Linked DNA regions of Homo sapiens. The protein of the gene in region 3 interacts with the protein of the main gene of each other region in a biochemical or structural test. Each region holds a gene or a part of one and is shown on either strand. Other genes may lie near its edges.

Region 1 (6,725 bases), on a different chromosome or scaffold from region 3:
GTAAACACACCAATCAGCACCCTGTGTCTAGCTCAGGGTATGTGAATGCACCAATCGACAGTCTGTATCTGGCTACTTTCATGGGCATCCGTGTGAAGAGACCACCAAACAGGCTTTGTGTGAGCAATAAAGCTTTTATCACCTGGGTGCAGGTGGGCTGAGTCCGAAAAGAGAGTCAGCGAAGGGAGATAAGGGTGGGGCCGTTTTATAGGATTTGGGTAGGTAAAGGAAAATTACAGTCAAAGGGGGTTTGTTCTCTGGCGGGCAGGAGTGGGGGGTCGCAAGGTGCTCAGTGGGGGTGCTTTTTGAGCCAGGATGAGCCAGGAAAAGGACTTTCACAAGGTAATGTCATCAATTAAGGCAAGGACCCGCCATTTACACCTCTTTTGTGGTGGAATGTCATCAGTTAAGTTGGGGCAGGGCATATTCACTTCTTTTGTGATTCTTCAGTTACTTCAGGCCATCTGGGCGTATATGTGCAAGTTACAGGGGATGCGATGGCTTGGCTTGGGCTCAGAGGCTTGACAGCTACTCTGGTGGGGCCTTGGAGAATGTTTGTGTCGACACTCTGTATCTAGTTAATCTAGTGGGGACGTGGAGAACCTTTGTGTCTAGCTCAGGGATTGTAAACGCACCAATCAGCGCCCTGTCAAAACAGACCACTCGGCTCTACCAATCAGCAGGATGTGGGTGGGGCCAGATAAGAGAATAAAAGCAGGCTGCCCGAGCCAGCAGTGGCAACGGGCACAGGTCCCCATCCACAATATGGCAGCTTTGTTCTTTTGCTGTTTGCGATAAATCTTGCTACTGCTCGCTTTTTGGGTCCACACTGCTTTTATGAGCTGTAACACTCACCACGAAGGTCTGCAGCTTCACTCCTGAAGCCACTAAGACCACGAGCCCACCGGGAGGAATGAACAACTCCGGCCGCGCTGCCTTAAGAGCTATAACACTCACCGCGAAGGTCTGCAGCTTCACTCCTCAGCCAGCGAGACCACGAACCCACCAGAAGGAAGAAACTGCGAACACATCTGAACATCAGAAGGAACAAACTCCAGATGCACCACCTTAAGAGCTGTAACACTCACTGCGAGGGTCCGCGGCTTCCTTCTTGAAGTCAGTGAGACCAAGCACTCACCAGTTTCGGACACAAGCCCAGGAGTTTGAGATCAGCCTGGGCAACATGATGAAATGCCCTCTCTGCAAAAAAAAAAAAATTACAAAAATTGGCGGAGCATGGTGGTCCGTGCCTGTGGTCCCAGCTACGCGGGAGGCTAAAGTGGGAGGATCGCTTGAGCCTGGGAGGTGAAGACTGCAGTGAGCTGTGATTGTACCACAGCCCTCTAGGCTGGGGGACAGACTGAGACCCTGTTTCCCCTCCGCAAAAAAATTGACAAAAGTGTAATAAGAGGTGCCTGATATGGCTAGGCGCAGTGGCTCATGCCTGTAATCCCAGCACTTTGGGAAGCCGAGGCGGGCGGGTCACCTAAGGTCAGGAGTGTGAGACCAGCCTGGCCAACATGGAGAAAGCCCATCTCTTCTAAAAATACAAAATTAGCCGGCTGTGGGGGCAGTGGTGGAGCATGCCTGTAATCCCAGCTACTCAGGAGGCTGAGGCAGGAGAATCACTTGAACCCAGGAGGCGGCGGTTGCAGTGAGCCGAGATCGTGCCATTGCACTCCACCCACTCCAGCCTGGGCAACAAGAGCCAAACTCTGTCTTAAAAAAAAAAAAAAAAAGTGCCTGACATATAAGAGGTGTGCAATGCAATAGTTGCCAGGCAACATGTTTAAGAATGTGGAGCTCCTGCCTTCCATGGTCCTGTTAAAAACCCACCCTCAAGGCCAGGTGCAGTGGCTCATGCCTATAATCCCAGCACTTTGGGAGGCCGAGGCGGGTGGATCACCTGAGGTCAGGAGTTCGAGACCAGCCTGACCACCAACATGGTGAAATCCCACCTCTACTAAAAATACAAAATTAGATGAGCATGGTGGTGCATGCCTGTAATCCCACCTACTTGGGAGGCTGAGGCAGGAAAATCACTAGAACCAGGGAGGCGGAGGTTGTAGTGAGCCGAGATCGTGCCATTGCACTCCAGCCTGAGCAATGAGCGAAACTCCATCTCAAAAAAACAACAACAAAAACCCACCCTCTACTCCCAGGGAGCTGGGTACAGAGCTGGGCCACATCAGTGCAAGGTGCTGAGCCACAGAGCTAAGGCGGAGCTGCAGGACCGCGGACCAGATAACAGTGTGTGAGATCAGTGTGTGAGATCAGACGTCCCTGCCATTGGTGACCACCAGGGGGCCCCCAAGCACCAGAGATGGCCCCATCCAGTCACCACATCCACTTCTCATCCAGAGATGTCTGTTTCTTGGCACGCTGGGGTAAATTAGGACAGAAGGTGACAGTCTTGGGTGTGGTCAGTCAGACTGCCCCAGGCAGGCCTTGTGGCCTGTAGAAAACGTTCAGGCCTAGGCCGGGCACGGTGGCTCACGCCTGTAATCCCAGCACTTTGGGAGGCCGAGGCGGGTGGATCACGAGGTCAGGAGATCGTGACCATCCTGGCTAACACGGTGAAACCCCGTCTCTACTAAAAATACAAAAAATTGGCCGGGCATGGTGGCGGGCACCTGTAGTTCCAGCTACTCGGGAGGCTGAGGCAGGAGAATGGCGTGAACCCGAGAGGCAGAGTTTGCAGTGAGCCGAGATCGCGCCACTGCACTCCAGCCTGGGCGACAGAGCAAGACTCCATCTGGAAAAGAAAAAGAAAACGTTCAGGTCTGAGCCAGAGGCCCAGGCTGTAATTCTGTCACTTACCATGACCTTGGGCAAGGCACTTCCTTCCCTGGCCCAGTTCACGGGGTTGGAATCGACTCCAAGGTCCCTTCCAGCATTAACGCTGCATGGTTCTAAGATGAGAAGATGGGGCAGTTTCCCCTCTCTCACCCCAGCCCGTGTCCACTTCAAGGTGAATGACCAGGGAAGTCACGTGTCCCAATCCCGCAGTTCCAAAGCCCTTGGGGACCCTACTGTCAGGGTCGTGCACGAGGAGGTGAAGGTCAGGTGAGCCAATCGCCTCGAAGGGTCTTGCCTCATTCGGGACAGACATCCGGTTTCCTCTGGCTCTACCGGGATTCTAGGGGCTTTAGCCGAATGAGTCATGGGGGGCGGGGGGGTTTCTGGGGGAGTTCCCAGCTAATCAACTTGGGACAGGACAGCCTGGAACTTTCGATGGTGCCTATCCAAGTGTGGGGTGGGCACAGCAGCCAAGACCCAATGTCCTTATCTCAGGTAGGGGCTCAGGAGGTCTCCCAGACAGGCAGCCTCCGGAGAGTTTGGGGGTAGGAATGGGAGCAACCAGCTTCTTTTTTTCTCTCTTAGAATTTGGGGGCTTGGGGGACAGGCTTGAGAATCCCAAAGGAGAGGGGCAAAGGACACTGCCCCCGCAAGTCTGCCAGAGCAGAGAGGGAGACCCCGACTCAGCTGCCACTTCCCCACAGGCTGCTGCCGCTTCCAGGCGTCTATCAGCGGCTCAGCCTTTGTTCAGCTGTTCTGTTCAAACACTCTGGGGCCATTCAGGCCTGGGTGGGGCAGCGGGAGGAAGGGAGTTTGAGGGGGGCAAGGCGACGTCAAAGGAGGATCAGAGATTCCACAATTTCACAAAACTTTCGCAAACAGCTTTTTGTTCCAACCCCCCTGCATTGTCTTGGACACCAAATTTGCATAAATCCTGGGAAGTTATTACTAAGCCTTAGTCGTGGCCCCAGGTAATTTCCTCCCAGGCCTCCATGGGGTTATGTATAAAGGCCCCCCTAGAGCTGGGCCCCAAAACAGCCCGGAGCCTGCAGCCCAGCCCCACCCAGACCCATGGCTGGACCTGCCACCCAGAGCCCCATGAAGCTGATGGGTGAGTGTCTTGGCCCAGGATGGGAGAGCCGCCTGCCCTGGCATGGGAGGGAGGCTGGTGTGACAGAGGGGCTGGGGATCCCCGTTCTGGGAATGGGGATTAAAGGCACCCAGTGTCCCCGAGAGGGCCTCAGGTGGTAGGGAACAGCATGTCTCCTGAGCCCGCTCTGTCCCCAGCCCTGCAGCTGCTGCTGTGGCACAGTGCACTCTGGACAGTGCAGGAAGCCACCCCCCTGGGCCCTGCCAGCTCCCTGCCCCAGAGCTTCCTGCTCAAGTGCTTAGAGCAAGTGAGGAAGATCCAGGGCGATGGCGCAGCGCTCCAGGAGAAGCTGGTGAGTGAGGTGGGTGAGAGGGCTGTGGAGGGAAGCCCGGTGGGGAGAGCTAAGGGGGATGGAACTGCAGGGCCAACATCCTCTGGAAGGGACGTGGGAGAATATTAGGAGCAGTGGAGCTGGGGAAGGCTGGGAAGGGACTTGGGGAGGAGGACCTTGGTGGGGACAGTGCTCGGGAGGGCTGGCTGGGATGGGAGTGGAGGCATTACATTCAGGAGAAAGGGCAAGGGCCCCTGTGAGATCAGAGAGTGGGGGTGCAGGGCAGAGAGGAACTGAACAGCCTGGCAGGACATGGAGGGAGGGGAAAGACCAGAGAGTCGGGGAGGACCCGGGAAGGAGCGGCGACCCGGCCATGGCGAGTCTCACTCAGCATCCTTCCATCCCCAGTGTGCCACCTACAAGCTGTGCCACCCCGAGGAGCTGGTGCTGCTCGGACACTCTCTGGGCATCCCCTGGGCTCCCCTGAGCAGCTGCCCCAGCCAGGCCCTGCAGCTGGTGAGTGTCAGGAAAGGATAAGGCTAATGAGGAGGGGGAAGGAGAGGAGGAACACCCATGGGCTCCCCCATGTCTCCAGGTTCCAAGCTGGGGGCCTGACGTATCTCAGGCAGCACCCCCTAACTCTTCCGCTCTGTCTCACAGGCAGGCTGCTTGAGCCAACTCCATAGCGGCCTTTTCCTCTACCAGGGGCTCCTGCAGGCCCTGGAAGGGATCTCCCCCGAGTTGGGTCCCACCTTGGACACACTGCAGCTGGACGTCGCCGACTTTGCCACCACCATCTGGCAGCAGGTGAGCCTTGTTGGGCAGGGTGGCCAAGGTCGTGCTGGCATTCTGGGCACCACAGCCAGGCCTGTGTATGGGCCCTGTCCATGCTGTCACCCCCAGCATTTCCTCATTTGTAATAACGCCCACTCAGAAGGGCCCAACCACTGATCACAGCTTTCCCCCACAGATGGAAGAACTGGGAATGGCCCCTGCCCTGCAGCCCACCCAGGGTGCCATGCCGGCCTTCGCCTCTGCTTTCCAGCGCCGGGCAGGAGGGGTCCTGGTTGCCTCCCATCTGCAGAGCTTCCTGGAGGTGTCGTACCGCGTTCTACGCCACCTTGCCCAGCCCTGAGCCAAGCCCTCCCCATCCCATGTATTTATCTCTATTTAATATTTATGTCTATTTAAGCCTCATATTTAAAGACAGGGAAGAGCAGAACGGAGCCCCAGGCCTCTGTGTCCTTCCCTGCATTTCTGAGTTTCATTCTCCTGCCTGTAGCAGTGAGAAAAAGCTCCTGTCCTCCCATCCCCTGGACTGGGAGGTAGATAGGTAAATACCAAGTATTTATTACTATGACTGCTCCCCAGCCCTGGCTCTGCAATGGGCACTGGGATGAGCCGCTGTGAGCCCCTGGTCCTGAGGGTCCCCACCTGGGACCCTTGAGAGTATCAGGTCTCCCACGTGGGAGACAAGAAATCCCTGTTTAATATTTAAACAGCAGTGTTCCCCATCTGGGTCCTTGCACCCCTCACTCTGGCCTCAGCCGACTGCACAGCGGCCCCTGCATCCCCTTGGCTGTGAGGCCCCTGGACAAGCAGAGGTGGCCAGAGCTGGGAGGCATGGCCCTGGGGTCCCACGAATTTGCTGGGGAATCTCGTTTTTCTTCTTAAGACTTTTGGGACATGGTTTGACTCCCGAACATCACCGACGCGTCTCCTGTTTTTCTGGGTGGCCTCGGGACACCTGCCCTGCCCCCACGAGGGTCAGGACTGTGACTCTTTTTAGGGCCAGGCAGGTGCCTGGACATTTGCCTTGCTGGACGGGGACTGGGGATGTGGGAGGGAGCAGACAGGAGGAATCATGTCAGGCCTGTGTGTGAAAGGAAGCTCCACTGTCACCCTCCACCTCTTCACCCCCCACTCACCAGTGTCCCCTCCACTGTCACATTGTAACTGAACTTCAGGATAATAAAGTGTTTGCCTCCAGTCACGTCCTTCCTCCTTCTTGAGTCCAGCTGGTGCCTGGCCAGGGGCTGGGGAGGTGGCTGAAGGGTGGGAGAGGCCAGAGGGAGGTCGGGGAGGAGGTCTGGGGAGGAGGTCCAGGGAGGAGGAGGAAAGTTCTCAAGTTCGTCTGACATTCATTCCGTTAGCACATATTTATCTGAGCACCTACTCTGTGCAGACGCTGGGCTAAGTGCTGGGGACACAGCAGGGAACAAGGCAGACATGGAATCTGCACTCGAGCAGCCAAAGCCTGGCAGGGAAGACAGAGGCACAGGGACCATGGGAACCCGGAAAGGAGAGGGCATGGGGTCTGGGTGGGCTTAACAGGCCAGACACAGCCAGACAAGATGAAGCCAGGGAGTGCTGAGCATCTGCACCAGGCTTGTCATTTACCATCTTCCATAAACTTGAGCCCATCCATCAAGTTGCCCACAAAGTGGAAGCCAAGTTCAAGGTGACCACTGGGGTCAGAGCTTCTCTCCTCAGACTCGGTCTCTG
Region 2 (7,370 bases), on a different chromosome or scaffold from region 3:
ATGATTTCCTTGATTGGCTCTGTCATAAATCCTGTGAAGTGATGCACAACATCTGGAGTTCCTCCAGCAGGAATTTGTTTGGGCTTGATGGCTTTTCATGGTTTTTTCTGAAACAACAATGGCATCTTCAATGGTGTAATCCTTTCAGACGTTCATGATATTCTCTCAATTGGGGTTCTCTTCCACAGAGTACTGTGTGTAATGATCCTTAAAGTCCTTATGACTCCCTTATCTAGAGGTTGAATTAGAGGTGTTGTGTTTAGGCGCATGTAGACCATTTCAATGTGTTTGTATTGAACTCATGGGGTTCTGGGTGGCCAGGGGCATTGTCCAATATCAAAAGAACATTAAAGGCAATCCCTTACTGGCAAGGTACTTCCCGACTTTAAAAACAAAGCATTTATATAACTGATCCAGAAAAAGAGTTGCTGCTCAGCCATCTTGCTGTACAACCAAAAGAGTGGCAGGCAGTGTTTCTTTTCCCTTCAAGGCTCAATTTTATAGATAAGGGCAGTCCTGATCATACATCTGGCTGCATTTGCACAAAACAGTACAGTTAGCCCATCCCTTCCCGCCTTGGATCCTGATGTTCACTTCTCTTCCTAATAAATATCCTCTGTGGCACTATTTTCCCCCAGAATAGGGCATTTTCGTTTGCCTTAAAAACCTGTTCAGGCAGATATCTTTTCTCCTCAGTGATTTTCTCTATTTTTTTTTATTTTTATTTTTTATTTATTTTTTTTTGAGAGAGTCTCATTCTGTCTCCCAGGCTGGAGTGCAGTGGTGCAATCTCACTGTAACCTCTGCCTCCTGGGTTCAAGCGATTCTCATGCCTTAGCCTCCTCAGTAGCTGGGATTATAGATGTGCACCACCACACCTGGCTAAATTTTGTATTTTTAGAAGAGACAGGGTTTTGCCATGTTGGCCAGGCTGGTCTCGAACTCCTGGCTTCAAGCAATCCACCCACCTCAGCCTTCCAAAGTGCTGGGATTACAGGCATGAGCCACAAAGCCTGGCCTTTTGTCCTCAATAATTTCCTTAATGGTATCTGGGAACTCGTCGGCTGCATCTGGGTCAGCAGAAGCTGCTTCTCCTGTTATCTTGACATTTTTTGAAAGCCAACCCACTTTTTAAAATTATCATACCTTCCTTCATCTTCCTTTTGCTTTGTCAGATAATGACTTCACTTTTTCTTGAATATTAGATTATATAGGTATGCCTTTCTCATAGCAATCCTGCACCCACAAAAAGCTGCATTTGCAATATGAGATAAAAAGGTATTTCCCAAAAAGTGCAAGGTTTTCATGCTTGTTGGTGTAGCTGCAGCGATGGCTTCATAAACTTCCTTTTGTTTTTATACCACAGTCCTTATACTGGATTCATTTATCTTAAAATGGCAGGCGACCTTAGCTGCAGACCTCAATCTACAATACACAGCAAGCAATTCCGCTTTTTCTGTAATGTCATTAACTTTTCTCTGATTCTTGGGAGCATTTCCAGCACCACTAGCGGCACTTCGTAATGGTCCCATGGTGTTACGCAAGGTTTACAGTACTGCAGTGAACACAACGAGAAATATGTGAGAACCTCAAGAGCTTACCTTTTACTGTGATATGCAATGTACTGGAGAGATCAACTGCTCACTCAGAGATGATTATGTTACTTGGAATTTTTAGCCAATACCAGCAACACTGACGCTCACTGCAATAGCAACAGGAGGTGGCTACAAAATCATTACAGTAGTACTCTATGTACTACAGTGAATTTGATGCAGTTATTATTTAATATTGCATCTTTACAACTGTTTACACCTCTCTTGAACCTAATGGGTGCCATGTAACTGTCTGTTTGTACGTGTAAGTTTTGATAAATTTTAACTTTTTATAACAGGCTTGTATATATTTTATGATAGTAAATAATAAAATGGCCTAGTATCTACATATATTTTATGCATTCATGACATATCTAGCTTTTTCTTTTCTTTTTTTTTCCATATTTCTTGGCTAAGCGACTCATCTGTGAGGTTTTTCACAAAATTGTTGCCATCGCCAAAAATATTCCATTTACTGAAAAAAATCCACATATAAGTGTACTCACGCAGTTCAAACTAATGTTGTTCAAGAGTCAACTGTATAAAAGGTATTAATATGTCTGGAAAGAGATATGTTTCCAATTTAACAGACACTACCAATGAGAAGAGTTGGGCTAGGCAGGAAACTTCAAATTTTCCTTTTTTACTTTATATATTCTATTTGTATCTCAACTTATAACCTGTGGACCACGTTTATTAGAAGAAAATGCAGATTCCTGAAACTTCCTGCAGACCCCATGAGTGACAATCTCAGGGAGATGGAGTTCCAGAATCTGCTTTTTTTCATAGATGTTTCTTTGCCATTCCTGTGTATATCTGAGTTTCAGTAGCACTGCTAATCAATTGTTTGGGGTTCTCTCTCCTTCACCAGCATGTTCTTGCAAAACTAACCAAACACATATAAAGCGCAAACAGTACAATAGTGCACTGCACCTTCATGACCCTTACCTGTTCCAGCCTCTTCCTACCTCTTCCACATGTGATATGTGTGTACATACCCACAGACAGAAACACAGAGACATGTTTGGAAGCCAGTGTGGATGCCCTGTGATCTGTGTGTACACATGACAAGTGCATACACACGCACATAAAGGAACCCAGAGACGTGTTTGGAAGCCAGTGTGGACACCCTGTGATCTGTGCGTACACATTTGACACCTGCGTACACACTCACAGACAGAAACACAGAGATGTGTTTGGAAGCCAGTGTGGACATCCTGTGGTCTGCGCGTACACATGTGACAGGTACGTGCACGCCCACATACAGGAACACACAGAGGCCTTTGGAAGCCAGCATGGGCAGACAGGCCCTATCCCAAAGCGGCCGGCAGGCGTCTCCTAAGAATGGTTCTCGGACACACCTCTGAAAGGAAAATACAACTCGGCACCGCAGTTGACTCGGCCAAAGGAAAAAAACTTAAGCTGAAAGCTGAGGCCTGCCCGAAGGAGCCTTTCCTGTGGCGCCTGAGCCGAGGGCTTCAGGGAGAGGGCCGCGCATCGCAGCGCAGCCGCCCGTCTTCCCGTGGCTTCCCTACGGCCGCGGCTCCCGCTGCTCCTTTCCGCCGGCCACGCGGGTCGCACGACCTTCCCCTCCCGCCCACCCTGAGGCGCTGAAGCCCTCGACGCCGGCCTCGGGAAAGGCGCGGCCACCGCCCGTTTCGGATTCCCGTTTCCTTCCTCCGGGCGCGTCCTTCACCGTGGCCAAATCAGCCTCTCAACTGCTGGAGCCCGGCCTCGGACACTTCTCGGCTTACGCCGCCATACAGTGGCGCACCCCGAAACCCCGGAACCGACAGCTCGGCTGGCCTTGCGCACCCACACTCTCCAAGGCAGGGCTCGGTCCGGGGGCTGGTTTTGCCAAGGCGAGGGGCGAGGGGCAGCCCAGGCGGCCGGATGGATACCAAGAGGGCGCGTCAGCTCCGGCGGGACGGGGCTTCCAGGGCCCGGGAGGGGTCCAGGACTCCCCGCCGGCGCCTGGCTGTCGGCGGAGGGCCGCGGGGCAGGAGGGAGTGGAGACTGCGGCCCCAGTTCGGGCAGCGCGGAGCCCACCCAACGCCCTCCTCGGCCCTCGGCTCTTCCTGGGGCCATCCCGCCCCTGCACCTCGGCCTGGCACCTTTCCGGTTAGCCTCGGAGGCCGTGGCCGAGCAGGGTGCGTTCGCCTGGCTGGGGGGCCTCAGAACGTTATTTCCGGGTGACAACCTGCAGGGCCTTCCGCCCCTCGCGACCTCTCGGGAGTCCCTTCCCCGGCGCCCCCCCGGGGCTGCAGGGGCTGCAGGTTCGGTCTCGGGGCCTCCTTACCGCAGTCCGCCCGGCTTTAGGCTAGTGGGCTTTAACTACGTCGATAATATGACTCCGGCGATCTTGTGCGGCGATGGGATGCGGCCGTGGGCGGTGGAGTCCAGGCGGAGTCCGCTCTCCACACGCGAGGGCGCCTCCTCCTCACCGCTCGCCGGCTTCAAAGCTCGCGCCTCAGGCGACGGCAGCCAACGGGTTGCCGGCTGGAGGCCCCGCCGACGCCCCGCCCCTTGCGTGCCCACCCGCGCCCCGCAGCCCCGCCCCCAGCGCCGACCCTAAGTTTCGGCGCTCAGTGGTCCGGCGCTCCCCAAGGCTCGGTGTCCAGCGTCAACCCCGAGGTCTCTATGCCCCGCCTCCCGACGCCAGGGGGCAGGGCCAGCGCGCTGCGCGTCGGGGCGGGGCTTTGGCTGCGTCGGCCGCGTAGCCCGCGCGCGGAGCGTACCCTGCTGCGGCCGTTGGCCGTTAGCGCGGCTTCGGCGGTTGTCTTGGAGAAGCAAGATGGCGGCGACGGCGGCCGCAGTGGTGGCCGAGGAGGACACGGAGCTGCGGGACCTGCTGGTGCAGACGCTGGAGAACAGCGGGGTCCTGAACCGCATCAAGGTGAGGCCGGAGGCTGGGGCCGGGCCTGGCGGATCCGCAGGGCTTGCGTGGACAGCGGGCGTCACAACGGTCGCGGCGAGGAGGCCGCCTCCCTGGCGAGGGACCGGGGCCGGCGGGCACTGGGGGCGCGCCCCGGCATGGCCTCCGTCCTGCCCGCCCCACAGAGGGGGTCGGCTCGTTCGTTCGTGTGGTCCCGGAGGGCACCGCGGACTGGGGGTGCCTGGCCCATCCCCTGCCTCATTCCGTGGGGGCGGGACCGCGGGGCTTGGGGGCCACACGGGCGGCCCGCAGCTGGGCCCTGGAGTGCGGCCCCAGCGTCTCTTCCTCAGGCTCGGGCATGATCCGCGGCGGGAAAGCAGCGCGTCCAGCCGAAGCCTGGGGGTCGGAGAGCTTGTGTGACTGAGAACGTTTCGGAAGGCGTTTCTGACCTTTGCACCTGCCCTCCCAGCTCGTTGGCTTGCTCGTGTTTGTTGCTGGATAAATGTGAGCTTGTTGTGAAAATTGTCTTGAAATTATAATTTCCTGTTTCTTAACTTTTTTTTAAGGCTGAACTCCGAGCAGCTGTGTTTTTAGCACTAGAGGAGCAAGAAAAAGTAGAGGTATGAAGTTTCCAGATTTTAACATGGCTGTATTCGTTAATACTTAATTTCTTATTCATTAAAAACCGTCTTAAAAATAGTTTATAGTAACATATAGCTAGGGATAATTTTGAACTGTTAAGGATTACATTACTATTGAGAGAGAGCCAAAATTATTCTTTTTTCGTGTAGCTTTTGAATTTGGGGGTAATCTTAAGGTACCACAGTAACTCTGATACTAATGCTTAATCTGAAACAAATGGTCATAGGAGTTTCTTGAAGAAATGGTGCCATTGTCAATGTGTTAAGTGCAGGTTCACTCAGATCCTTTAGTAAGCTAATATGTTATTAATCCCTATGAAACGGGGTATATAGTATGCAACTTTTCCCAAAATTATCTGACCACTCAATTATTTTGACAATGAAAAAGACAGCGATTATTTTAAAAGTGCAGCCACTACTCTATATTTAAGTGGGTAATTTAACTTTTTCGGAGTCCCACCAACCATCCTGAGTAAATATTCTGGAATTTGTCAACAAGAATAGAACCATCATCAAAGCCTTAAACTCTTGCTGTATGACAAATCAGTCTACTGTCCTCTCACTTCTTTAGACCTGTATACCTAATCTCTAATTTCATCAAAATCTTCAGTTCTTTGCCCTTTCCATGTCTGTGCAGGCATCAGTCTTCTCTTGGCAGCATTTTGCTCTGGACCCTATGGGTCTGGACCCCTAATTACCTTGCCTTAACGGTCATACGTGGTCTGGAAGAAATCTCAGTGGTCATTTAACCCAGCAAACTAACTCTTCCCACTTTGCACATATGTGCTCTTGGAGAAGAGTCAGTCAATCCTGTGGATTGCTGATGTTGCAAATTGGCAGGTACCAACCTGGTTAGGTCCTGAGCAGGCCCAGCAGCTCTCTTCTTCACCCTAGCTGTGCAGTAGCCTTCTATGTCACCCCTGCTTCCTTCTCTCTGAACACATGGTCTTGTTGCTTCCTCCACAGGGAAGGTAGAAGCCATTAGATCCTAACTTTATGTCCTCCTCTCCTGTCCCTCAATCTATTGCTCACCTGTGAAAATGCTTACCTGTGTCTATGTTTATCTGTACCTCTTTCCTTACTGCTTTAGAAGAAGAGGCTCTGTCCTGTCCAAGAATAATCACTCTGTCTTGTGTATACTTTCAAGTCTTTAATTATTTACTGTATCTTTGACCCCTTCCTTTTCTGATGGCTTTTCTTTTGAGCTTGAAAACATGTTTAAATAACTATTAGGAGTAAACTGTTTTCCTTTACTCACATTCTGCTTTTAATACCGCTGTGGTTTTTTTCCTTCACAACCTGGTTTTGACCACTCCTTGGTTTCTTTAGCATGATCTTTTTCCTGTACACCTGACTGAGACTTATCCACAGTTGTCATTCTGTACTGTCTCACAGACTGACCTTATTCATCCAGTAACTCCAGCCCTGTAACTTTCATGCATGTTTCTTTCCCGAGCTTCAGACCTGTATGTTAAACTGCCCACTGTATTATGCCCTTAATGGGACCATCATTTATCTGGCAAGAAATCTAAGCGTTTCTTAGGCCTTGCTCTTCTTTCCACCTGCTCAGCCATCACCTGGCTCTGTGTCTGTCAGGTGTGTATCTGAAGTGTCCCCAAGGGAGTGCTCTGCTGCCTCCTTTGTGCTTGTTTCTTCTTTTCCAGATTGCCTTATCCCCTTCCTACTTGCCAGTCTCCGTTTCCGTGGTGTCCCTCACCATCTCCCTGAAGTCCTTTTTCCACATTGCTCCTAGATTGGCTGTTTATAGTACACATCTGATCTGTCCCTCCATTCTCTTAAAATATTTCAGTTGACTCCCTATCTTAGAATTCCCTGAACCAGCCTACCAACTACCTTGAGGATCTCTCCTCTCCTTGTCTTTTATTTTAACAACTTTATTGAGGTAAAATTGACCTATAGTAAAGCTAAAGTATTTAATATGTACAATTTGATTTTTAATAGTTAATTTATGCAGCTGTGAAATGATCATCACAATCAAGGTACTGCGCATATCCTTCAAACTTTTGACCTTCAAAAGTTTTCCTTGTGCCCCTTATGTAACCCTCTCCCCCACCCCAAACCTTTTTAAGAATTATATAAATGGAATCGTATAGTAGGTACTCTTTTTTTTTGGTCTGTTTCTTCAACATAATGCATTTGAAATTCATTCATGTTGTGGTATGTATTAATAAATCATTTCATTAATACATTGTACAGATATGACAGTTTAGCCATTACCTGCTGACAGACATTTAGGCTGTT
Region 3 (6,549 bases):
TCAGGTGATTCAGGCACTGGGGGAAAGGCTGGTGAACTGCCTGTGGAAAACCAGTTCCTAAGCTGGAAGAAGCAGAGAGAAAATCGTGACCCTTGATCTGCTCCACCATCTGCCACCAGGGCCTTTTGAGGAGGTCGTCTTCTCATCTTTCTGCCTCAGGCCTACTTTTCAACAACTCCCCAGCAGGAGAGTCTGTGGTCTCCTTTGGGGTCTTGCTGTTCTCCTTGTACCAGCAGCTCCAGAGTTTGTTGTGGGTCTCATTGTAACCTGTACTGATATAGATGGGCGCTCTTGTTAGTGGATTTCAGTCTCATCCTGGGTTCCAGTCTCTTGTTCTTTGAGGGAGGGGCCTCAGAGGTAGGCTAGTGCTGCTGGTGGTGACTTCCTGAGGAATGGGATCTTCCCCTCTCCCTCTACAGAGCTGCACACTGTGATGGAGACTCCTCTGGAGAAGGCCCTGACCACTATGGTGACCACGTTTCACAAATATTCGGGGAGAGAGGGTAGCAAACTGACCCTGAGTAGGAAGGAACTCAAGGAGCTGATCAAGAAAGAGCTGTGTCTTGGGGAGGTAGGTGATTGTTCCCTCATCCTCCACCCCAAAGTCTGAGTACTCCCTCTGGGGGACACATACCTACCCTCAGGATCCTCCAGCCTAAGCCAGGGGCAGGGTGGCCAAGGGCTACAGACAGAGACAAAGGAAGATGGTGGGGATTTCGGGCCAGCAAAACTCTAGCCCTCTGTGAAGGAGAATGGGTCAGGGTCTCACTGAGAAGGAGGAAGGGCTGAGTCTGGAGGGTTTAGAGAAGGAGATTGAGGAGCCTTCGATGGTGGGGCCAGGCTCTCCCAGCAGTGGCAGAACCTGTGCTAGGGGTCATGGGTGGTGAAGGGATGCAGGGTGTCCAGGTCCAGCTGTGTACAACTCAAGTGTAGGGACTCTGCCTGATTCTTCTCTGTGTGCACAGCATGGCCAGGGCTCTCTGATGGTGCTGGCACTCAAACTGAAAGGTTAACTTGTAAACATAGGGTAGTGAGGAGACAGAACTGGTTCTCACCAGATGGAGGTGGTGGGAGGGAGGTGACTGACAGAGGGGAAGGCCCATGAGGTTATTATAATACAATATCCCCGAGGATAAATAAATAAATAAATATATATATATATATATATATATATTTTTTTTTTTTTTTTTTTTTTTTTTTGAGAGAGTCTCGCTCTGTCACCCAGGCTGGAATGCAGTGACATGATCTTGGCTCACTGCAACCTCCGCCTCTCAGGTTCAAGCGATTCTCCTGCCTCAGCCTCTTCAGTAGCTGGGATTACAGGCACGCACCATCACGCCCAGCTAATTTTTGTATTTTTAGTAGAGATGGGGGTTTCACCATGTTGGTCAGGCTGGTCTCGAACACCTGACCTCGTGATCCATCTGCCTCGGACTCCCAAAGTGTTGGGATTACAGGCGTGAGCCACTGCGCCTGGCCAAGGATAAATATTTTTGAGACAGAGTCTCACTCTGTCACCCAGGTTAGAGTGCAGTGGTGCGATCATGGCTCACTGTAGCCTTGAACTTTCAGGCTCAAGTGATCCTCTTACCTCAGCCTCCTGAGAAGCTAGGACTACAAGCAAATACCACCACGCTTAGATAATTTTTAAAATTTTTTGTAGAGATGGGGTCTCACTATTTTACCCAGGCTGTTCTTGAACTCCTGGCCTCAAATGATCCTATCGCCTCAGCCTCCCAAAGTGCTGAAATTACAGGCATGAGCCACTGTGCCTAGTCTTATTATTTTTATAGTTAAAAAAAATCAATGCTCAAATACATCAAATAACTTGCCTAAGGACAATCCGCTAGTGGGAGGCTGAGCTGGAGTTCTGGGCCAGGCCTGTGAATCATCCTCCCTGTTTCCTTTAAAATTTAGCCTGGGTGCCTCTCCATCTATCACACCTTGAGCCCTGGTAGGCCCTCCCAGAAAGAAGGTCCACAGTGTGCCACATGGGCAGGGGACAGAAGCAGGTATGGGCGTCCCCAGGCCTGATCTCTGGCCTTCTGCCAGGCTGCCTGCATCCTGGAGGTTAATGAGGGCAGAGGGAGGGGCCACAGGTCCAGCAGGGATTAATTACAGAAGGAGAGACGCCCAGAGGAGGGCCTGGCAATAACAGGAGCCCAGGCTGGGGACTAGGATCACGTGACAGACAAGCAGTTTCCGCCTTTGTAAGTCCCAATGTCTCCTGTGAAAACCTGTAGCTGACGGCAATGATGAGGAGACATCAGGATCTGCTTGTCTATATTTTCTTCCTGTTCCACCCAAAGGACCCTGACTCCATCGTCCTAATGGAGCCAGGCTGGGACATCAGGGGACTGAACAACAGTGCACAACCAGGCTCCAGGCAGGCCTCTTGCACAGCTCTCCTAGCAGGGGAGGGATGCAGTGGCTTCACAGCCCCAGTGCACTGCTCTCATTGAGAGACATTTTGTCCGGGGTTATTCTCACCTAGTCCTTAGAATGGGGAGAGAGTCACTCAGAGACTTGGATAATGCTCAATGCCACATAATCAGCAAGGTGTTCTTTTTTTTTTTTTGAGAAGGAGTTTCATTCTTGTTGCCCAGGCTGGAGTGCAATGGCATGATCTTACTTACTGCAACCTCCGCTTCTCAAGTTCAAGCGATTCTCCTGCCTCAGCCTTCCAAATAGCTGGGATTACAGGGATGTACCACCATGCCTGGCTAATTTTGTATTTTCAGTAGAGACAGGGTTTCACCATGTTGGTCAGGCTGGTCTCGAACTCCTGATGTCAGGTGATCCACCCGCCTCGGCCTCCCAAAGTGCTAGGATTACAGGTGTGAGCCACCACACCTGACCCAGCAAGCTGTTTTTATCAGGTGTTGGTATAAAACCTAGATGATTGTTTCTTTGGCTGGGGGACAGTATTGCAGGGAAGGCAGGCTAGGCTAGCATTCCTGCTGTCATTTATTTCCATTCAGGAGTCAGGTCCCTGACCCCCTACCTCATGCCAGGCCCTTCCCTAGGTGTGGGCAGTGGGCAGACTCTGGGGGTCGAGATGCTGACAGTGTCATTGACTCAGCTGGGGCTCACCCTGAAGTTTCGGGGTGGGGATGACACCATGCAGTGGTGCGAGGGCAGGGCTGGGAGCGGGGTCTGAGCTGTCTCTCCACCTGGGTCCACAAAAGATGAAGGAGAGCAGCATCGATGACTTGATGAAGAGCCTGGACAAGAACAGCGACCAGGAGATCGACTTCAAGGAGTACTCGGTGTTCCTGACCATGCTGTGCATGGCCTACAACGACTTCTTTCTAGAGGACAACAAGTGACCAGGGCTGCCCTCCACCCTCACCCTCCACCCTTTGCTGCTGACCTCGGCTGCTCCTCTCACAGACCCTCTTTGGCCCCCTGCCCTCCTCTCCCTCCCAGATGGACCCTTCCATGGGAGGAAATAAAGTTTCCATCGCAGGTGCTGGGAGTCTGGTTTTGAAGCTGTCTTGTCTACCTTGGCCTGGGGAGAGGGGAGCACAGGAAGGGTCTCTCCTTGAGTGGGTTGAGACAGCTTCTGCCTCTGGGGGTTAGGGTCCTGGGCTCCCACTGCATTCCTCTCCTTCTTTGGTGTGGACGTCATTGGTTTTGTCATGGCTTAGTTTTGCCTGCCTGGAAAATGGGGAAGTTAGGCCAGGCGGGAACTCTGCAAGGATGCAGAGGAAGTTAAGAGGGAAAGTTGCTTTGAGAGGAGGACACTGGGAGGGGTTGGGAGTGGCTCCTGAGGGCGGTGATAGGCAGGCAGGCCTGACTTGTCCACAGCTCACCGGAGGCCACCTTGGCAGCACCTGTAGGAAGGGCATGTCTGGCCTCCACACCAGCCCCCTCCCTCTTCACCATTTCCCCTTCAATAGCACCACTCTCATCATCTATGGGGGACAGTGCTTTCTTCTCTCCCTGCCTCCTCCATCAAAATCTTTTCTCAGGGGAGGGTCTGAAAAGGCCTTCACTCCCCCGTAAATAACGAATGGTGCTTACAGGGCTGGGCTCCCACGTGCATGCACATTAACACCAAAGGTGCTGTAGTGAATGGAATTTGGGGCACTGAGGGGAAGGAGTGGAGGTGTTGGTAGGAACTTGTTGCTGGTGGGGGATGGGCGCCGTAGATATCCTTTACACCACTGGCTACTCCCCCTATCTCCTCTGGGGTGACCCTGAGTATCCTCTGTGGGACACCGGCATCCTGTGAGGCGCCCTCCTTGCCCACATTGACGCTGCGCTGGCTCGAGGGTCACATTCACGGTCTGGCAGAGGAAGCAGGGGTGACCGCCGCAGTCCTCCTCCTGCTCCCCTTGCCGAGTCACGTGTCACGAAGAGCAAACTGAGCAAACTGAGCTGCGCAGATGAGGGGAGACTCGTCACCAGGCGTGCAGTGGGCACTGCTGGGCTCCCCCATCCCGTCCTAACCCGGAACAGCCCCGGGCAGGAGGCGTGGAAAGTCGAGGGGGTAAACCGCGAATGTGCGTTGTGTAAGCCACGGCGCAGGGTGGGGCGCGGGCGGGACTTGGGCGGGCGGGGTGGGCTTGGCCGAGCTGGCCTCCGGGGCACCGACCGCTATAAGGCCAGTCGGACTGCGACACAGCCCATCCCCTCGACCGCTCGCGTCGCATTTGGCCGCCTCCCTACCGGTGAGTTCTCTCCAGGAGCCCTGGGTACTTTCCAGGGCCAGCTGCCCTCACGCTGGGGGTCCAGCCATCCCCTGCCCAGTTCAGCCGCTGGATCCAGACTGGGGCCATCTGTGGCGCTCCCCCGCTGGAGGGATAGTCAGGAGCAGCAGTGCTGTGCCAGGCAGGCCTTGGGCTAAGGGATCGCAATGGGGTGTGCTCTTTTGGGGTGCGGAAGGGAGTGCCCTGGGTGTGTCATTGCCACCATGTGTGGCCCTGTGAAGCTGTGTTTAAGCTGCCTTTGCAGCCTCCATTCCCCTCCCCTGCCCAGCCATACTCCTCAACTTCTGGATCCCCTGAAGGACAGTTCTCAGCTGTGCCCAAAGCTACTGTTCCTATATGCTTCTTAGAATCCTTAAGCCACCTCTCTTGCCTTGGCCCTAGTGTGCTCTCTCCTTCCCCTTCAAGCCCTGGGCTGTCTCCTGATGCCATTGTGTGTGGCCTGAGACTGGGTGGTTCCAAAGGAGGCGGGGCTAGTGCAGGCAGCATTATTGGGGTGTGTGGGTGAGAAGTCCTTGCTCCCATGGCACTGACTAGGCCCTCTGCTGCCAGCTCCAAGCCCAGCCCTCAGCCATGGCATGCCCCCTGGATCAGGCCATTGGCCTCCTCGTGGCCATCTTCCACAAGTACTCCGGCAGGGAGGGTGACAAGCACACCCTGAGCAAGAAGGAGCTGAAGGAGCTGATCCAGAAGGAGCTCACCATTGGCTCGGTGAGTGGCCTCCTCCCCAGGACCCCTTTTCCCACCCTTGTCCTTTGGAAGCAGGATTAGGGGAGAGAGAGGTGCCAGGTGCATCTGACTCACATTTACCCACATTCTGAGGCCCTGGTCCACATGTAGACCCTGAGCTGTAGACCCACTCTCCCAGCGGGTAGGGGATGCTTCCAGCCGGATATCCATCTCTCCAAATGAGGACCAGTAACTGAGAAGTAGCTGAGGAGAAGCAATGCCAAAGTGACATGGGTCCTTGGTGATGAGGGAGCACAGAGCCACTTGCAGAGAGGATTGCCTGGGAGGGGGAAGGGGAAGAATCCAGGGTTGTCATCACCACTGAGTATGGATTTCACATTCTAACACATTAGAAGCTGCAGGATGCTGAAATTGCAAGGCTGATGGAAGACTTGGACCGGAACAAGGACCAGGAGGTGAACTTCCAGGAGTATGTCACCTTCCTGGGGGCCTTGGCTTTGATCTACAATGAAGCCCTCAAGGGCTGAAAATAAATAGGGAAGATGGAGACACCCTCTGGGGGTCCTCTCTGAGTCAAATCCAGTGGTGGGTAATTGTACAATAAATTTTTTTTGGTCAAATTTACCCTTGCGTCCTGGCTTCCGAATGATTTCTGTTCCTCCTTGGCTTAGTGGGACACCAGCCATTGGAAGATTTGCTCACGGTCAACCTCTGAAAATGACTCATTGACTCGCCAGGCCAGAGGACCCACCCTGACAAGGCTGCCTCTAGCACATAAGGTGCCTTTATGTGAATGAGGAGAGATGCCCCTCTTGGCAACGCCATCCTAAGGAAAGGCTCAAGTGGTTTCCAGTAGAGAGAGTCCTGGGATGAGCTTGGAGATGGAAATGGTCCCTGGGCCGGGATGTGATGGGGTTTGGGGGCCTGGAAGTGAGGCAGAGATAGTCCCAGAGGCTCCCAGATGTGTTTTGCTCTGGGTGTGGCAAGAGGGGCCCTGGGGTGGGGCAAGTCCCCTTTCTCATCACAGCGCAGGGGTTAGATAGGGCACATCTGAGATGCCTGAGGCTTGGCTCAGGGAGTTTCCTACACCAGTGAGGACGCTGTGTGACTGAGTCTACTGCGGCTGCCCAGGTCCCAGGTGGAGTGG
Region 4 (7,033 bases), on a different chromosome or scaffold from region 3:
CCCTCCAGCCCTTCCTGCTTCTTGGAGACAATGTAGCCAAGGCTGAGGGTCTGGCCTTATGGGAGGAGAAATGCAGAGGGCTCTGCTGCTGCTAGTAATGGAAGTAATAGAAGCTTCGGGTGGGAAGAGGCAGGCACAAGCCCCTCTCCAGACTCAAAGCATGGTCAGGGTTAAGGCATCTTTATCTCCAGAGCGGTACCCAGAAGAATACTGAAAGGAGTCGGGATGTCAGAAACTATGTCCCGTTATAAATGGCAGTACAGAATATTGGTGCTCTAGAGACCAGAAGAGGGAGCAGTAGCTCCCCTGTGGGTCAAGGGCTGAGAAAAGGCTTCACTGAGGAGATAGAACTTGACATTGTTCAATCTGAAAATGGTTGAGCCAATCCGTGGGCCCTTGAATACTGAGAAACTGCTGAGAGATGTTGGGTAATCATTTCTAATACCTACCAGGTTGGGCTTATCAGGTAGTGTGAATTAGGATTATCTGGGACGCGTCCTGATATGTCCGTGTTAGTAGAGCAGGTAGCAAATAGATTGCTCTCCTCAGCTTAACTGAAATCTATGTAGTCTGCCCACCTCTACCAAAGTTGAGATTAGGGCAGCTCCCAAGAACTGAAAAAAAGTGCCACTCTACCCAACTCCTTGTGACTGCCCTTGTGGTCAGATCCGGCCTGGCAGTTAGTAGGGACTCTCTCGGATGAGAAAGATTGTGTTTCACTGCCCATGAGTTAGCATGGGAAGGAATTGTGTCACATCTTGTCCCACAGGTGGAGTTGTTTGAGTTTAAGGGAGAAGATCTGACGGAAGAGGAAGATGGCGGAATCATTCGCAGAATACAGACTCGCGGTGAAGGCTATGCTAAGCCCAATGAGGGTGCTATCGTGGAGGGTGAGACAGTACAGTCTGGGCTTTCAATTCTCATTCTGATATTTAGGCCTTGTGTGGCTTTGGGCAAGACACTTCCGTTCTCCGAGCCTATCTTCTTGTCCATAAAATGAGGGGTTGGACCATATTCTCTTCATATCACTCCAGATTTGAGAACACAGGAGAATCTTGGGATGATGGGGGTGATGCAGGGAGGCTGATGGCATCCTTCCTCAGTCACCTGCCCTCTTACAACTCTGGTACACTGCCTCTCTTTCATGCCAGTTGCACTGGAAGGGTACTACAAGGACAAGCTCTTTGACCAGCGGGAGCTCCGCTTTGAGATTGGCGAGGGGGAGAACCTGGATCTGCCTTATGGTCTGGAGAGGGCCATTCAGCGCATGGAGAAAGGAGAACATTCCATCGTGTACCTCAAGCCCAGGTGAGGGGTGGGCACTTCGTAGGGTAGGCAGGCAGGCAAACCAAGATCAAAGATATAAAATGAATTGTAGAACCAGCTGTTTGTATCCTTTTTAACTCTGGCCACACCAAACATACACCATTATGATATCCTCAGTGTACTTAGAAGTATGGCCCAATTGTCTACATCTCCTTGGATCTAAGCCCAGTCTTTTCAGTCATAGTTGCTACAGATTCTCTCCTCTGCCATCAAGATTTTCCTCTCCCATTAATTCATTTCAGTCATTACTGAAACAGCTACTACATGCCAGGCACTGCTGAAAATTCCTATAGGGCTTCAGAGACTAATAGAACATTGTTTCTGCCTTCTAATTCTAGCTCATTGTTTAGTGAGGTGCTATTTAAATTAGTAATCACACTGCTGCCTGGCTGTAAGTTATTAGAAGGGTATGAAGGATGCTGAGGGACCATCTGACAGTGTGAAGAGGCCAGGGAAGATTTGCCAAACATTTGAACCAAGTCTCAAGGGATGGGAAGGTACTTTCCAGGAAATGGACAGGAAGCCTTTTCAGCCTGGAGCAGGTTAAGTGTTGCCAAGATGATACATAGTGTTTTTCACCCCTCCAGCTATGCTTTTGGCAGTGTTGGGAAGGAAAAGTTCCAAATCCCACCAAATGCTGAGCTGAAATATGAATTACACCTCAAGAGTTTTGAAAAGGTAAGTTTGCTCAGGGTCTTCCCATCTAAAGTCAAGTTCCACCCTGTACGTGACTCTGGGGTAGCTGACAACTTTGTTTCTCTCCTGGGGTGTGGCAGGCCAAGGAGTCTTGGGAGATGAATTCAGAAGAGAAGCTGGAACAGAGCACCATAGTGAAAGAGCGGGGCACTGTGTACTTCAAGGTGAGCCAACAGTCATTGTCCTAAGGACACTCCCAGGAAGAGTTGCTCTGAGCCTCCCCTTCCCTTGGTGACTGAGATCATTTTCTGCCAAGAAGTGGACAGGTTGGCACCTGCCATCTTCACTTCATATATGTGAGCTTGCTGGCCTTGCCAGTGGGAAGGGTGGGAGCAGGAACCTCTTGTGGCCATGTGTCACTGATGTCTGCAGGGTATAAGAGCCTAGTACCACTGAAACTGTGCCAGGTGCCTGAGCCTCTCTCCCATTCCAGGAAGGTAAATACAAGCAAGCTTTACTACAGTATAAGAAGATCGTGTCTTGGCTGGAATATGAGTCTAGTTTTTCCAATGAGGAAGCACAGAAAGCACAGGCCCTTCGACTGGCCTCTCACCTCAACCTGGCCATGTGTCATCTGAAACTACAGGCCTTCTCTGCTGCCATTGAAAGCTGTAACAAGGTGAGGCCCCCTCAGAGGTCATGGAAGCAGCATTCACAGGCAGAGTTGGGTGAGCTGCCAGCATGTCTGAAACTTCCCCTTGGTGACTAGGGCAGGGATAGCAGGGTGGATCAGTGGGAGCTCTGAGGTTACAGACCAAAGGCACGGATGCAAGTATTCATAGCAAGAACCTTAGCTTTGGTGGGAAGCAGTTGGCAAGAAGGAGGAGGACACGGAATGGGAAGAATCACATAAAGAGTTTTCTTCCACCTTGGTTCTTAGCCTCTCCGCTTACCTACTTGCTTTATTCTAAAGTGAATGTTAATGTCTGAAGTCTTTATTTCATCCAAAGACCTGCTGTCTTCCCTCTCTGCCTGTTGGATTAAATGAGGTCCCTGGATTGTTCCATTTAATGCCTCAGGCCTTGTTCTTCCTGGGGTGCAGCCAGCCACTTGCATTCCTCCTCATCCTCCTGAGGGGTACCTTTGGAACCCAGTCTAGGCCAGATGAGCTACAAGCCCTGAGCTCCCACAATGTGGCTTCCTCTCTGCATTCTTTAGGCCCTAGAACTGGACAGCAACAACGAGAAGGGCCTCTTCCGCCGGGGAGAGGCCCACCTGGCCGTGAATGACTTTGAACTGGCACGGGCTGATTTCCAGAAGGTCCTGCAGCTCTACCCCAACAACAAAGCCGCCAAGACCCAGCTGGCTGTGTGCCAGCAGCGGATCCGAAGGCAGCTTGCCCGGGAGAAGAAGCTCTATGCCAATATGTTTGAGAGGCTGGCTGAGGAGGAGAACAAGGTGAGGATTGGGGTGGGGAACAGTTGGAATAGCATCCCTCCACTTAACCTGGCTACTGTGGGCTCTTTGTGCCTTTGGTTGTCTGTGCCAATCCCGGAAACCAGAAGTTGCCTTTTCCCTGGAGCATTAAGGAGCACGTGTTCCTGCTGTTGGGGCCAGTGTTCTGTGATCAGTGCGGGAAACCTACCCACAAGCCCCAGAAGTTGGGTTGGTTGCCCTGAGTGTAATTCCCGATTTATGTTTTCTTGTGGGCCAGGCGCCGTGGCTCACACCTGCAATCCCAGCACTTTGCAGAGCCAAAGTGGGAGGATCACTTGAACCCAGTAGGTAGAGACCTCAGTGACTTAGGATGGCACCACTGCACCCCAGCCTGAGTGACAAAATGAAACCCCATCTCAAAAAAAGAAAAGCGAGATGCTTTTTGTGTGTGATTAAATAAATAATACACTTAGTTAAATTCAAACTGTACCAAAGTATACAGTCAAGTCTGCCTCCCCCACCAGAAGCAGCTGCCCCTTCAGGGTCTTGGATGGTCCAGTGTATTGCGTCAAGGCACAGGCAGACGTTCCTGTTGCTTCCTCCCTTTCCCCTAACACAGGCAACGTGCTCCACCTATGATTTGGCGCATACTATGCTTTTTTCACGTAATAGTAGCTGGAGGCTTATTTTACATCCGTATTTAAAGAACTTTTACATTCTTTCTTAGGCTTACATTGTATTCCATTGTATGGATATGGCTTGTCTTAGTCAATCAGTCCCTTTTTAGTCTTCCAGTGGTTTTATTTTTTTTCTTTTTCTGAGACAGAGTTTCGTTCTTGTTGCCCAGGCTGGAGTGCAATGGCATGATCTTGGCTCACTGCAAACTCCACCTCCTGGGTTCAAGCGATTCTCCTGCCTCGGCCTCCCGAGTAGCTGGGATTACAGGCGCCCGCCACCACACCCGGCTAATTTTTGTATTTTTAGTACAGACGAAGTTTCATCATGTTGACCAGGCTCTCGAACTCCTGACTTTAGTGATCTGCCCACCCCTGCCTCCCAAAGTGGTGGGATTACAGGTGTGAGCCACCACACCCAGCCAGTCTTAAACAGTGTTCTAAACCAGCACTGTCCAGTAGAAATACAGTATCAACCACATGTAATTCAAAATTTTCTGGTAACCATGTTAAAAAGGTGAAAAACAAATGGAATTAAATTTTAGTTGCATTTGTGTATTTTTCAAACCATCTTCAAAATCCAATGTATATTTTGCACTAAAAACACGAGTTTGAACTAGCCACTTACAGTAGTGGCTACCATACGGGACAGTGCTGCTTAGAACAGCATTGCAGTGAATAACCTCATGAGTTCATAATTTGTACATATACAAGTGTTCTGTTTTGTTTTGTTTGAGACAGTGTCTCTTGCCCTGCCGCCCAGGCTGGAGTGCAGTGGCACAGTCTCAGTTCACTGTAACCTCTGCCTCCAGGGCTCAAGTGATCCTCTTGTCTCAGCCTCCCGAGTAGCTGGGACTACAGGTGCATGCCACCACGCCCAGGTAATTTTTGTAATTTTTGTTGAGATGAGGTTTCACCATGTTGCCCAGGCTGATCTCAAACTTCTGGGCTCAAGCAATCTGACCACCTCAGCCTCCCAAAGTGCTGGGATTACAGGCATAAGCCACCAGGCTTGGCCTATACAGGTATAGCTTTAGGACAGATGTAGGAGAATGGGTGTATCTGTGTAATTCTGCTGGAAATTAAGTGTGTGTTTTTTCACTTGGGAAGTCAGCCCGTTTGCTGTTCATCTTCCTTGCAGGCCAAGGCAGAGGCTTCCTCAGGAGACCATCCCACTGACACAGAGATGAAGGAGGAGCAGAAGAGCAACACGGCAGGGAGCCAGTCTCAGGTGGAGACAGAAGCATAGCCCCTCTCCACCAGCCCTACTCCTGCGGCTGCCTGCCCCCCAGTCTCCCCACTCCACCCTGTTAGTTTTGTAAAAACTGAAGAATTTTGAGTGAATTAGACCTTTATTTTTCTATCTGGTTGGATGGTGGCTTTAGGGGAAGGGGGAAAGGTGTAGGCTGGGGGATTGAGGTGGGGAATCATTTTAGCTGGTGTCAGCCCCTCTTCCCTTCCTCCATTGCACATGAACATATGTCCATCCATATATATTCATCAGAATGTTAATTTATTTTGCTCCCTCTGTTAGGTCCATTTTCTAAGGGTAGAAGAGGCAAGTGGTAGGGATGAGGTCTGATAAGAACCCAGGGTGGAGAGGGAGACTCCTGGGCAGCCGTTTTCCTCATCCTTTCCCTCTCCCAGTCCATTTCCAAATGTGGCCTCCATGTGGGTGCTAGGGACATGGGAAAAACCACTGCTATGCCATTTCTTCTCTCTGTTCCCTTCCTCACCCCCGACGGTGTGGCTGATGATGTCTTCTGGTGTCATGGTGACCACCCCCTGTTCCCTGTTCTGGTATTTCCCCTGTCAGTTTCCCCTCTCGGCCAGGTTGTGTCCCAAAATCCCCTCAGCCTCTTCTCTGCACGTTGCTGAAGGTCCAGGCTTGCCTCAAGTTCCATGCTTGAGCAATAAAGTGGAAACAATAAAACCTGGGTGTCAGACAACCCTTTCTGTTCAGCCTTGGAGTGGTGGGTATGGGTGGGTACATAATGGGTAGTAGCACAATCAAGGGGTCACCCACTTAGTTCCAGTTGAGCTTAAATAAGTGAGCATCTCATGTAGATGCCATAGTTGGGCAGGAAGCAGCCCCACCATGCATGGCTTCCTGAGCACTGCACAGGCTGCCGCTGGGATTTGTGTCTATGGCTTCGCCCAAGGTTCCCAGCACTCCCTCCCTCCAGCAACCTGGCAGTTTTAGTGCCTCTGGTTTTCTTCCCTGACACTTAGGAAGACGAAAGTATAAAGATCTAGAAGACTGGGACACCATGCATGTTCATTTTGAAGTTGGAATTGGTCTTCTGCCTACCTCTGATCTGGCAGAGGTATCTGCATTTTGGTTTGTTAACAAGGTAAAACTCCTGGTGTCACTGACCTCCTCCTGTCAGATAACTTACATGATTAAGGTTAAGAGTAAAGCAGAGTGTTCACGTCCAGCTTCCTTCTCAGCCTTAACAGGAAAAGGCTTGTGCTTTTTTTCTAACTATGCTTTGACCCTTAACTCCTATGGCATGATGGGGCCCTGGGAGAAGCCAGGCAGCACAAGCCAGTCATGCTGAGCTGCCTCCAGATAATCCTGGCTCCAGGCCAGAGCCCGTGTCTGCCCTCATCCCTCTCTCCTACTGTGAGCTCTCCAGTCCTTTCCCAACAGCGATGTGGTTGTCTGCTTAGCCACATGCCTGTATAGTTCCTTCCAGAAGAAATGTATAATGGTGGAAGATGTATTTCTGTGTGAAAATTTTCACCAAGTCATACAACACAGCTGATGCTGGAGCCAGGATTAAAATTGGGGTGTACAAGTCTCCCAGTGTGAGTATCCCTTGAGCCCAAGACACCAAGGATGCAGAGAACTGTGACTGTGCCACTGCACGCCAGCCTGGGCAAGAGAGTGAGACCATCTCTTTTTTAAAAAAGTCCCTGTGTAACTGCTTTCTTACTGGGCTTACCTCACATCACAG

The links.
Region 1: the proteins of S100A6 (region 3) and CSF3 form a complex in vitro, tested with the Homo sapiens proteins (one study listed by BioGRID).
Region 2: the proteins of S100A6 (region 3) and CEP43 form a complex in vitro, tested with the Homo sapiens proteins (2 studies listed by BioGRID and IntAct, with this or other methods).
Region 4: the proteins of S100A6 (region 3) and FKBP4 form a complex in vitro, tested with the Homo sapiens proteins (one study listed by BioGRID and IntAct).

The regions. Positions count from the first base shown.
Region 1 is NC_000017.11:40,011,605-40,018,329, forward strand, and holds CSF3 (granulocyte colony-stimulating factor isoform b precursor), read left to right. Parts: upstream 1-3,835; 5' UTR 3,836-3,870; coding exon 3,871-3,910; exon of another isoform or gene 3,911-4,086; coding exon 4,087-4,241; coding exon of another isoform or gene 4,242-4,250; intron 4,251-4,628; coding exon 4,629-4,736; intron 4,737-4,880; coding exon 4,881-5,027; intron 5,028-5,190; coding exon 5,191-5,355; 3' UTR 5,356-6,209; downstream 6,210-6,725. UniProt on the Homo sapiens protein: Granulocyte/macrophage colony-stimulating factors are cytokines that act in hematopoiesis by controlling the production, differentiation, and function of 2 related white cell populations of the blood, the granulocytes and the monocytes-macrophages.
Region 2 is NC_000006.12:166,995,027-167,002,396, forward strand, and holds the start of CEP43 (centrosomal protein 43), read left to right. Parts: upstream 1-4,370; 5' UTR 4,371-4,386; coding exon 4,387-4,488; intron 4,489-5,033; coding exon 5,034-5,087; intron 5,088-7,370. UniProt on the Homo sapiens protein: Required for anchoring microtubules to the centrosomes. Required for ciliation.
Region 3 is NC_000001.11:153,534,076-153,540,624, reverse strand, and holds S100A6 (protein S100-A6), read left to right. Parts: upstream 1-4,633; 5' UTR 4,634-4,676; exon of another isoform or gene 4,677-5,264; 5' UTR 5,265-5,285; coding exon 5,286-5,423; exon of another isoform or gene 5,424-5,721; intron 5,722-5,794; coding exon 5,795-5,929; 3' UTR 5,930-6,026; downstream 6,027-6,549. Other genes in the region: S100A5 (protein S100-A5), read left to right, coding at 420-571, 3,189-3,329. UniProt on the Homo sapiens protein: May function as calcium sensor and modulator, contributing to cellular calcium signaling.
Region 4 is NC_000012.12:2,797,937-2,804,969, forward strand, and holds part of FKBP4 (peptidyl-prolyl cis-trans isomerase FKBP4), read left to right. Parts: intron 1-769; coding exon 770-890; intron 891-1,151; coding exon 1,152-1,308; intron 1,309-1,913; coding exon 1,914-2,004; intron 2,005-2,102; coding exon 2,103-2,186; intron 2,187-2,455; coding exon 2,456-2,641; intron 2,642-3,180; coding exon 3,181-3,420; intron 3,421-5,214; coding exon 5,215-5,322; 3' UTR 5,323-7,033. UniProt on the Homo sapiens protein: Immunophilin protein with PPIase and co-chaperone activities. Component of steroid receptors heterocomplexes through interaction with heat-shock protein 90 (HSP90).